2 separate regions of the Homo sapiens genome follow, and region 1 is linked to region 2. Evidence: fine-mapped expression QTL. A gene starts in region 2. The other region holds a variant in brackets. All regions are shown on one strand. Distances are between the middles of the regions. Region 1 has its middle 23 kb from the start of KRABD5. Region 2 holds the start of KAT8 (lysine acetyltransferase 8).

Region 1 (5,179 bases), 570 kb after region 2:
ACCTGGAAAATCGGGTCACTCCCACCCTGATACTGCACTTTTTCCAACAGTCTTAGCAAACGGCACACCAGGAGATTATATCTCCCGCCTGGCTTGGAGGGTCCTATGCCCACGGAGCCTCACTTATTGCTAGCACAGCAGTCTGAGATCAAACTGCAAGGCGGCAGTGAGGCTGGGGGAGGGGCATCCGCCATTGCCGAGGCTTGAGTAGGTAAAGAAAACAGCTGGGAAGCTCGATCTGGGTGGAGCCCACCACAGCTCAAGGAGGCCTTCTTGTCTCTGTAGACTCCACCTCTGGGGGCAGGGCATAGCCAAACAAAAGGCAGCAGAAACCTCTGCAGACTTAAATGCCCCTGTCTGACAGCTTTGAAGAGAGTAGTGGTTCTCCCAGCACGCAGCTTGGATCTGAGAACGGACAGACTGCCTCCTCAAGTGGGTCCCTGACCCCCTAGTAGCCTAACTGGGAGGCACCCCCCAGTAGGGGCAGACTGACACCTCACAAGGCCGGATAATCCTCTGAGACAAAACTTTCAGAGGAACGAATAGGCAGCAACATTTGCTGTTCACCAATATCCGCTGTTCTGCAGCCTCCGCTGCTGATACCCAGGCAAACAGGGTCTGGAGTGGACCTCCAGGAAACTCCAACAGACATGCAGCTGAGGGTCCTGACTGTTAGAAGGAAAACTAACAAACAGGACATCCACACCAAAAACCCATCTGTACATCACCATCGTCAAAGACCAAAGGTAGATAAAACCACAAAGATGGGGAAAAAACAGAGCAGAAAAACTGGAAACTCTAAAAATCAGGGGGCCTCTCCTCTTCCAAAGGAATGCAGCTCCCCACCAGCAATGGAACAAAGCTGGACGGAGAATGACTTTGATGAGAGAAGAAGGCTTCAGATGATCAAACCTGAGCTAAAGGAGGATGTTTGAACCTATGGCAAAGAAGTTAAAAACCTTGAAAAAAATTAGACGAATGGCTGACTAGAATAACCAATGCAGAGAAGTCCTCAAAGGACCTGATGGAGCTGAAAACCATGGCATGAGAACTACGTGATGAATGCACAAGCCTCAGTAGCCAATTCAATCAACTGGAAGAAAGGGTATCAGCGATGGAAGACCAAATGAATGAAATGAAGCGAGAAGAGAAGTTTAGAGAAAAAAGAATAAAAAGAAATGAACAAAGCCTCCAAGAAATATGGGACTATGTGAAAAGACCAAATCTACGTCTGATTGGTGTACCTGAAAGTGAAGGGGAGAACGGAACCAAGTTGGAAAACACTCTGCAGGATATTATCCAGGAGAACTTCCCCAATCTAGCAAGGCAGGCCAACATTCAAATTCAGGAAATATAGAGAATGCCACAAAGATACTCCTCAAGAAGAGCAACTCCAAGACACATAATAGTCAGATTCACCAAAGTTGAAATCAACGAAAAAATGTTAAAGGCAGCCAGAGAGAAAGGTCAGGTTACCCACAAAGGGAAGCCTATCAGACTAACAGCTGATCTCTCAGCAGAAACTCTACAAGCCAGAGGAGAGTGGGGGCCAATATTCAACATTCTTAAAGAAAAGAATTTTCAACCCAGAATTTCATATCCAGCCAAACTAAGCTTCATAAGTGAAGGAGAAATAAAATACTTTACAGACAAGCAAATGCTGAGAGATTTTGTCACCACCAGGCCTGCCCTAAAAGAGCTCCTGAAGGAAGCACTAAACATGGAAAGGAACAACCGGTAGTAGCCACTGCAAAAACATGCCAAATTGTAAAGACCATGGAGGCTAGGAAGAAACTGCATCAACTAACGAGCAATAACTAGCTAACATCATAATGACAGGATCAAATTCACACATAAGAATATTAACCTTCAATGTAAATGGGCTAAATGCTCCAATTAAAAGACACAGACTGGCAAATTGGATAAGGAGTCAAGACCCATCAGTGTGCTGTATTCAGGAAACCCATCTCACGTGCAGAGACACACATAGGCTCAAAATAAAGGGATGGAGGAAGATCTATCAAGCAAACGGAAAACAAAAAAAGGCAGGTGTTGCAATCCTAGTCTCTGATAAAACAGACTTTAAACCAACAAAGATC[C/A]AAAGAGACAAAGAAGGCCATTACATAATGGTAAAGGGATCAATTCAACAAAAAGAGCTTACTATCCTAAACATATATGCACCCAATACAGGAGCACCCAGATTCATAAAGCAAGTCCTTAGAGACCTACAAAGAGACTTAGACTCCCACACAATAATAATGGGAGACTTTAACACCCCACTGTCAACATTAGACAGATCAATGAGACAGAAAATTAACAAGGATATCCAGGAATGGAACTCAGCTCTGCACCAAGCAGACCTAATAGACATCTACAGAACTCTCCACCCCAAATCAACAGAATGTACATTCTTTTCAGCACCATACCACACCTATTCCAAAATTGACCACATAGTTGGAAGTAAAGCACTCCTCAGCAAACATAAAAGATCAGAAATGATAACAAACTGTCTCTCAGACCGCAGTGCAATTAAACTAGAACTCAGGATTAAGAAACTCACTCAAAACCGCTCAATTACATGGAAACTGAACAACATGCTCCTGAATGACTACTGGGTACATAACGAAATTAAGGCAGAAATAAAGATGTTCTTTGAAACCAACGAGAACAAAGACACAACATACCAGAATCTCTGGGACAGATTTAAAACAATGTGTAGAGGGAAATTTATAGCACTAAATGCCCACAAGAGAAAGCAGGAAAGATCTAAAATTGACACCCTAACATCACAATTAAAAGAACTAGGGAAGCAAGAGCAAACACATGCAAAAGCTAGCAGAAGGCAAGAAATAAGTAAAATCAGAGCAGAACTGAAGGAAATAGAGACACAAAAAACCCTTCAAAAAATTAATGAATCCAGGAGCTGATTTTTTGAAAGGATCGACAAAATTGAGAGACCGCTAGCAAGACTAATAAAGAAGAAAAGAGAGAAGAATCAAATAGACACAATAAAAAATGATAAAGGGGATATCACCACCGATCGCACAGAAATACAAACTACCATCAGAGAATACTATAAACACATCTACCCAAGTAAACTAGAAAATCTAGAAGAAATGGATAAATTCCTTGACACCTACACCATCCCAAGACTAAACCAGGAAGAAGTTGAATCTCTGAATAGACCAATAACAGGCTCTGAAATTGAGGCAATAATTAATAGCTTACCAACCAAAAAAGTCCAGGAACAGATGGATTCACAGCCGAATTCTACCAGAGGTACAAGGAGGAGCTGGTACCACTCTTTCTGAAACTATTCCAATCAATAGAAAAAGAGGGAATCCTCCCTAACTCATTTTATGAGGCCAGCATCATCCTGATACCAAAGCATGGCAGAGACACAACAAAAAAAGAGAATTTTAGACCAATATCCCTGATGAACATCGATGCAAAAATCCTCAATAAAATACTGGCAAACCGAATCCAGCAGCACATCAAGAAGCTTATCCACCATGATCAAGTGGGCTTTATCCCTGGGATGCAAGTCTGGTTCAACATATCCAAATCAATAAATGTAATCCAGCATATAAACAGAACCAAAGACAAAAACCACATGATTATCTCAACAGGTGCAGAAAAGGCCTTTGACAAAATTCCACAACGCTTCATGCTAAAAATTCTCAATAAATTAGGTACTGATGGGACATATCTCCAAATAATAGGAGCTGTCTGTGACAAACCCACAGCCAATATCATACTGAAGGGGCAAAAACTGGAAGCATTCCCTTTGAAAACTGGCACAAGACAGGGATGCCCTCTCTCACCACTCCTATTCAACATAGTGGCCAGGGCAATCAGGCAGGAGAAGGAAATAAAGGGTATTCAATTAGGAAAAGAGGAAGTCAAATTGTGCCTGTTTGCAGACGACATGATTGTATATCTAGAAAACCCCATCATCTCAGCCCAAAATCTCCTTAAGCTGATAGGCAACTTCAGCAAAGTCTCGGGATATGAAATCAATGAGCAAAAATCACAGGCATTCTTATACACCAATAACAGACAGAGAGCCAAATCATGAGTGAACTCCCATTCACAATTGCTTCAAAGGGAATGAAATACCTAGGAATCCAACTTACAACGGATGTGAAGGACCTCTTCGAGGAGAACTACAAACCACTGCTCAATGAAATAAAAAAGGATACAAACAAATGGAAGAACATTCCATGCTCATGGGTAGGAAGAATCAATGTCGTGAAAATGGCCATAGTGCCCAAGGTAATTTGTAGATTCAATGCCATCCCCATCAAGCTACCAATGACTTTCTTCACAGAATTGGAAAAAACTACTGTAAAGTTCACATGGAACCAAAAAAGAGCTCGCATTGCCAAGTCAATCCTAAACCAAAAGAACAAAGCTGGAGGCATCAAGCTACCTGACTTCAAACTATACTTACTACAAGCCTACAGTAACCAAAACAGCATGGTACTGGTACCAAAACAGAGATATAGACCAATGGAACAGAACAGAGCCCTCAGAAATAATGCCGCATATCTACAACTATCTGATCTTTGACAAACCTGAGAAAAAAAAGCAATGGGGAAAGGATTCCCTATTTAATAAATGGTGCTGGGAAAACTGGCTAACCGTATGTAGATAGTTGAAACTGGATCCCTTCCTTACACCTTATACAAAAATTAATTCAAGAAGGATTAAAAACTTAAATGTTAGACCTAAAACCATAAAAACCCTAGAAGAAAACCTAGGCAATACCATTCAGGACATAGGCATGGGCGAGGACTTCATGTCTAAAACACCAAAAGCAATGGCAACAAAAGCCAAAATTGATAAATGGGATCTAATTAAACTAAAGAGCTTCTGCACAGCAAAAGAAACTACCATCAGAGTGAGCAGGCAACCTACGGAATGGGAGAAAATTTTTGCAACCTACTCATCTGACCAAGGACTAATATCCAGAATCTACAATGAACTCAAACAAATTTACAAGAAAAAAAAAAACCCCATCGAAAAGTGGGCGAAGGACATGAACAGACACTTCTCAAAAGAAGACATTTATGCAGCCAAAAGACACATGAAAAGATGCTCATCATCACTGGCCATCAGAGAAATGCAAATCAAAACCACAATGAGATACCATCTCACACCAGTTAGAATGGCAATC
Region 2 (5,162 bases):
GGTTCAAGCAGTTCTCCTGCCTCAGCCTCCCAAGTAGCTGGGATTACAGGCACACGCCACCACCCCTGACTGTTTTGTATTTTCAGTAGAGACGGGGTTTCACAATGTGGGCCAAGCTGGTTTTGAACTCCTGACCTCAAGTAATCCACCTGCTTCGGCCTCCCAAAGTGCTGGGATTACAGGTGTGAGCCACCGCGCCCAGTCTTTTTTTTTTTTTTTTTGAGGCAGAGTTTCACTCTTGTTGCCCAGGCTGGAGTGCAATGGCACAATCTCAGCTCACCACAACCTCTGCCTCCCAGGTTCAAGCGGTTCTCCTGCCTCAGCCTCCCGAGTAGCTGGGATTACAGGCATGCGGCCACCACGCCTGGCTAATTTTGTATTTTTAGTAGAGATGGGGTTTCTCCATGTTGGTCAGGCTGGTCTCGAACTCCCGACCTCAGGTGATCTGCCTGCCTCGGCCTCCCAAAGTGGTGGGATTACAGGAGTGAGCCACTGCGCCCAGCCTCCTTTTCTTTCCCCCCTTTTTTTTTGAGACAGGGTCTCTGTCACCCAAGCTGGAGTGCAGTGGAGGGATTATAGCTCACTCAGCCTCGACCTCCTGGGTTTAAGCGATCCCTCTGCCTCAGCCTCCTGAGTAGGTGGGACTACAGGTGCGGGCCCCGAGGCCCAGCTAATTTTTTTTTTCCCCCAAATTTTTAGTAGAAAGGAGGTCTCTATGCTGCCCAGGCTGGTCTTGAACTCCTGGCCTGAAGCGATCCTCCTGCTTGGATTCCTGAAGTGCGAGATTACAGGTGTGAGCCACCATACCTCAACACTGTATTTTCAACCCGCTCTTCGTTCAATCTCCAAAGGTGGGACATGCGGATATGGAGGGCCGATTGTGTATGGTTGGACCATACACATATAAATGGCTTTAACCTTTACTGACTCTCACAGAACCCTCAGTGCAGTGGCGTGATCTCAGCTCACTGCAAGCTCCACCTCCCGGGTTCACACCATTCTCCTGCCTCAGCCTCCCGAGTAGCTGGGACTACAGGGGCCCGCCACCACGCCCGGCTAATTGTTTTGTATTTTTTTTTAGTAGAGACGGAGTTTCATCGTGTTAGCCAGAATAGTCTCGATCTTCTGACCTCGTGATCCACCCGCCTAGGCCTCCCAAAGTGCTGGGATTACAGGCGTGAACCACCGCACCCGGCCTTTTTATTTTTTTTGAGATGGAGTCTGGCTCTTGGTCCCCAGGCTGGAGTGCAATGGCGGGATCTCGGCTCACTGCAACCTCCGCCTCCCGGGTTCAAGCGATTCTCCTGCCTCAGCCTCCCGAGTAGCTGGGACTACAGGTGCGTGCCACCACGCCCGGCTAAATTTTGTATTTTTAGTAGAGACGGAGTTTCACGGTGTTAGCCAGGATGGTCTCGATCTCCGCCCGCCTCGGCCTCTCAAAGTGCTGAGATTACAGGCGTGAGCCACCACGCCCCGCCCAACTCGTCCTTTCTTTAGACTTTATCCTGTGAGGGTGAATTATGGCCTGTCCCTGGACACACCCGTTCTGCTTTCCCCGCACCAACTGTATCCCAAATAGGGGAAGTAGTCTCTTCAACCTTCAAAAATGGGGCACTGGCTGGGCACGGTGGCTCACGCCTGTAACCCTAGCACTTTGGGAGGCCGAGGCGGGCGGATCACCTGAGGTCAGGAGTTCGAGACCAGCCTGGCCAACAGGGTGAAGCCCTCTCTCTACTAAAAATACAAAAAATAGCCGGGCGTGGTGGCGCGCGATTGTAATCCCAGCTATTCAGGAGGCTGAGGCAGGAGAATCGCTTGAACCCGGGAGGCGGAGGCTGCAGTGAGCCGAGATCGCGTCACTGCACTCCAGCCTGGGCGACAGAGCGAGACTCCATCTCAAAAAAAAAAAAGGGGGGGGGGCGGGGAGCGACATTAGGCCAGCGCGAGTGTGCGGCTCCAGGCCACCAGGGCGGCCGCTCTGGCTCTGCCCTGTTAAAGTGGGGGCAGCGCCCGCTGAAAATTGGCACATCTTGGCTTCCGCAGGTACCAGGGCCTTTAAAAAGGTTCAGCTGGCCGGGCACGGTGGCTCACGCCTATAATCCCAGCACTTTGGGAGGTTGAGGCTGGCAGATCACGAGGTCAAGAGATCAAGACTATCCTGGACAACATGGTGAAACCCCGTCTCTACTAAAAATACAAAAATTAGATGGGCGTGGTGGCGCGCGCCTGCAGTCCCAGCTACCCGGGAGGCTGAGGCAGAGGAATCGCTTGAACCCGGAGGCGGAGGTTGCAGTGAGCCGAGATCGCGCCTCTGCACTCCAGCCTGGGCGACAGAGCATGATTCCGTCTCAAAATAAATAAATAAATAAATAAATAAATAAATTAAAAAAAGGTTGAGTTGAGTCATCGCATGAGGTAAGTCTGTCTCCTCTCCTCACCCATAGGCTGCAGCCACAGGTCCGCACGGAAAACCAGGAGCTCCAAGACTGCCGCACACTCAACATCCAACTCGCGGGGCCGCGGGGACGGCCACAGAAGCCAATCGGCTCCTGCTACATCACAGACCCCGCCCTCAAACCTTGAGGAGCCCGCCCCACGCACTGCTGACCCGGAGCCAAAAGAACTGCGTGGCGTCCGATTCTGGCGTCACTTCCCTTCCCGCGATGGCGGCACAGGGAGCTGCTGCGGCGGTTGCGGCGGGGACTTCAGGGGTCGCGGGGGAGGGCGAGCCCGGGCCCGGGGAGAATGCGGCCGCTGAGGGGACCGCCCCATCCCCGGGCCGCGTCTCTCCGCCGACCCCGGCGCGCGGCGAGCCGGAAGTCACGGTGGAGATCGGAGAAACGTACCTGTGCCGGCGACCGGATAGCACCTGGCGTGAGGGCGGGGCCCAGGGCTGGGGGCGGGGCGGAGCTCAGGGCCAGGGGGTGGGGCGGGGCCTGAGGACAGGCTGTCAGTGAGGCCAAGATCCGGGGGCTGGGAGTGGAGAGGAGGAGGGGCGGGGCTTGAGGAAAGAACGCCGCGTTCCGGGCGCTGAGAAACCAGCCGGGTTGTGGGAGGCTGTTGACCTTGAATTATGCCGAGCGACGCCTACAAACCCACCGCTCAGGCCTTCACCAGGATTGTTCCCATTCCACTTCCTTGCCCAGTCTTAGGCTTCATTCCTTTTTCTTGCTAACGCTGCTTCCTCACCCTCTCTTGTCTCTGCGTCTTCTTTTTCCATTTGTCCCTGGCAGCCATCCGCAGAGAGAAGACCTTCCAGAAACAACAGGCTTCCCTTTCCTAAAGTTCTGCTGCCTTCTCTCATTTTCAAAATTAACCCCAAACTCCTTAGGGTGGCATTCATTTTTGTGACCTCTCCAGTTTCTAGCCAACACTAGGAAAGGGCATTGCCAGGCCAGAACACACTGTGCCCTCTGAAGACCACACGCCCTTTACCACCTGTGCCCTTTGCTTGGAATGCTTTTTCTTCCCTTTCTCCTTGTTTGCCTGCCTAGCTCCTACTCATCCTCTTAGCTTCATATCCTTTGTGATGTCATCCTTGATTCCCCTTCAGGCAAAGTGAGTGGTTCCCTTCTCTATGTTCCTGCAACATTTTTTTCCTACCTCAGTCATAGTTTTTGTAACATTATGTTGTAATTTTCTCTCTCTGTCTTCCTCCATCATACTGGGAACTTCTGGAGGGCAGCACTTCTTGTGATTCATCACTGTGTCCTCTGTACCCGGCAACAACACAGCATAGGGCCAGACACGTAGTGGTTGCCTTACTCATTTATTGAATGCTCTGCTAATTGTCAGGTGCGCTGCTAAAAATTTTGGAGGCATTAATTCACCTTCTAAGGTTGGTACTATTATCCCTTTTGTCTTTTTTTTTTTTTTTTTTTTTGAGACAGGATCTCGCTCTGTCACCCAGGTGGGATTGCCGTGGCACGATGACAGCTCACTGAAGCCTAGACCTTCTAGGCTCAAGTGATCCTCCCACCTCACCCTCTCAGAGTGTTGGGATTACTGGCATGAGCCACTGTGCCCAGCTGTTATCCCTTTTCACAGATGAAGAGACTGAGGCTCAGAAAGATGGAATAACTTGCTCAGTTACACATAGCTAGGAAGTAGGGAGCTGGAATTTTGTGTATTTTTTTTTGTTTGTTTGTTTGAGATGGAATCGCTCTCTGTTGCCAGGCTGGAGTGCAGTGGCGCCATCTTGGCTCACTGCGATCTCTGCCTCCCGGATTCAAGCGATTCTCCTGCCTCAACCTCCTGAGTAGCTGGGACTACAGTTGTGCGCCACCACACCCAGCTAATTTTTGTATTTTTAGTAGAGACGAAGTTTCACCATGTTGGCCAGGATGGTTTTGACCTCTTAACCTCGTGATTCACCCACCTCGGCCTCCCAAAGTGCTGGGATTACAGGCGTGAGCCACGATGCCCAGCCCTGGAATTATACATTAATGTAGGTTATCTTAATCCAGAGCCAGCACTCATGATCCCTGAACAAATGAACAACTGCGGGTATGTGGTAAAATGAGCATTGAATTTAGAGTCAGACTTAAATTCAGTTAAGTATTAGCTCTTACCACTTTTCAAATCTGTGACCCTAGGTAAGCCTCAGTTTTGTTCTGTTTTTTGGGGTTCTTTTTTTTGAGACAGAGTCTTGCTCTTGTCACCCAGGCCACAGTGCAGTGGTACAATCTCGGCTCACTGCAACCTCTGCCTCCCGGGTTCAAGCAATTCTCCTGCCTCAGCCTTGCCTCCCAGGTTCAAGCAATTTTCCTGCCTCAGCCTCCCGAGTAGTTGGGATTACAGGTGTGTGCCACCATGCCTGGCTTTTTTTTTTTTCGTCTTTTTGGTACAGATGGGGTTTTGCCATGTTGACCAGGCTGGTCTCAAACTCCTGGCCTCAAGTGATCTGCCCATCTCGGCCTCCAGAAGTACTGGGATTACAGGTGTGAGCCACACACCCAGCCAGTTATTTTCTCATTCGTAAAATGAGAATAACAGCCTCAACCTGATCCACCTCACAGTTGTGGCAGTGATTGAGTAGAATGGCAGAGGTGGACCAGTGAGGTTAGCTGATGTGTGGCCCTGAACTCTGGAAACTGCTTCTCAGTGTGCAGGATTCCTTTTGTTCCAGCCTTACCTTCCTGATGACCCTAGCCTTTTTCCAT

The links. PIP is the estimated chance that this variant, and not a neighbour inherited with it, causes the effect. A credible set is the group of variants that fine-mapping cannot tell apart.
Region 1: its variant is the best candidate, but not a certain one, in a credible set for the expression of KAT8 in nucleus accumbens (GTEx, PIP 0.79).

What each region holds. Positions count from the first base shown.
Region 1 is chr16:31,687,466-31,692,644 of GRCh38, forward strand. No RefSeq gene overlaps it. Among named protein-coding and RNA genes, the nearest start is that of KRABD5, 23 kb to the right of the region's middle. The variant C/A (reference allele first, on the strand shown) is at 2,100.
Region 2 is chr16:31,115,019-31,120,180 of GRCh38, forward strand. KAT8 (lysine acetyltransferase 8) reads left to right here and starts at 2,646. Exons shown (of 11, transcript NM_032188.3): 1 at 2,646-2,874. The coding sequence starts at 2,664. It also overlaps a transcript of BCKDK not described here. RefSeq lists silencers at 2,464-2,690, 2,590-2,939 and an enhancer at 3,110-3,229.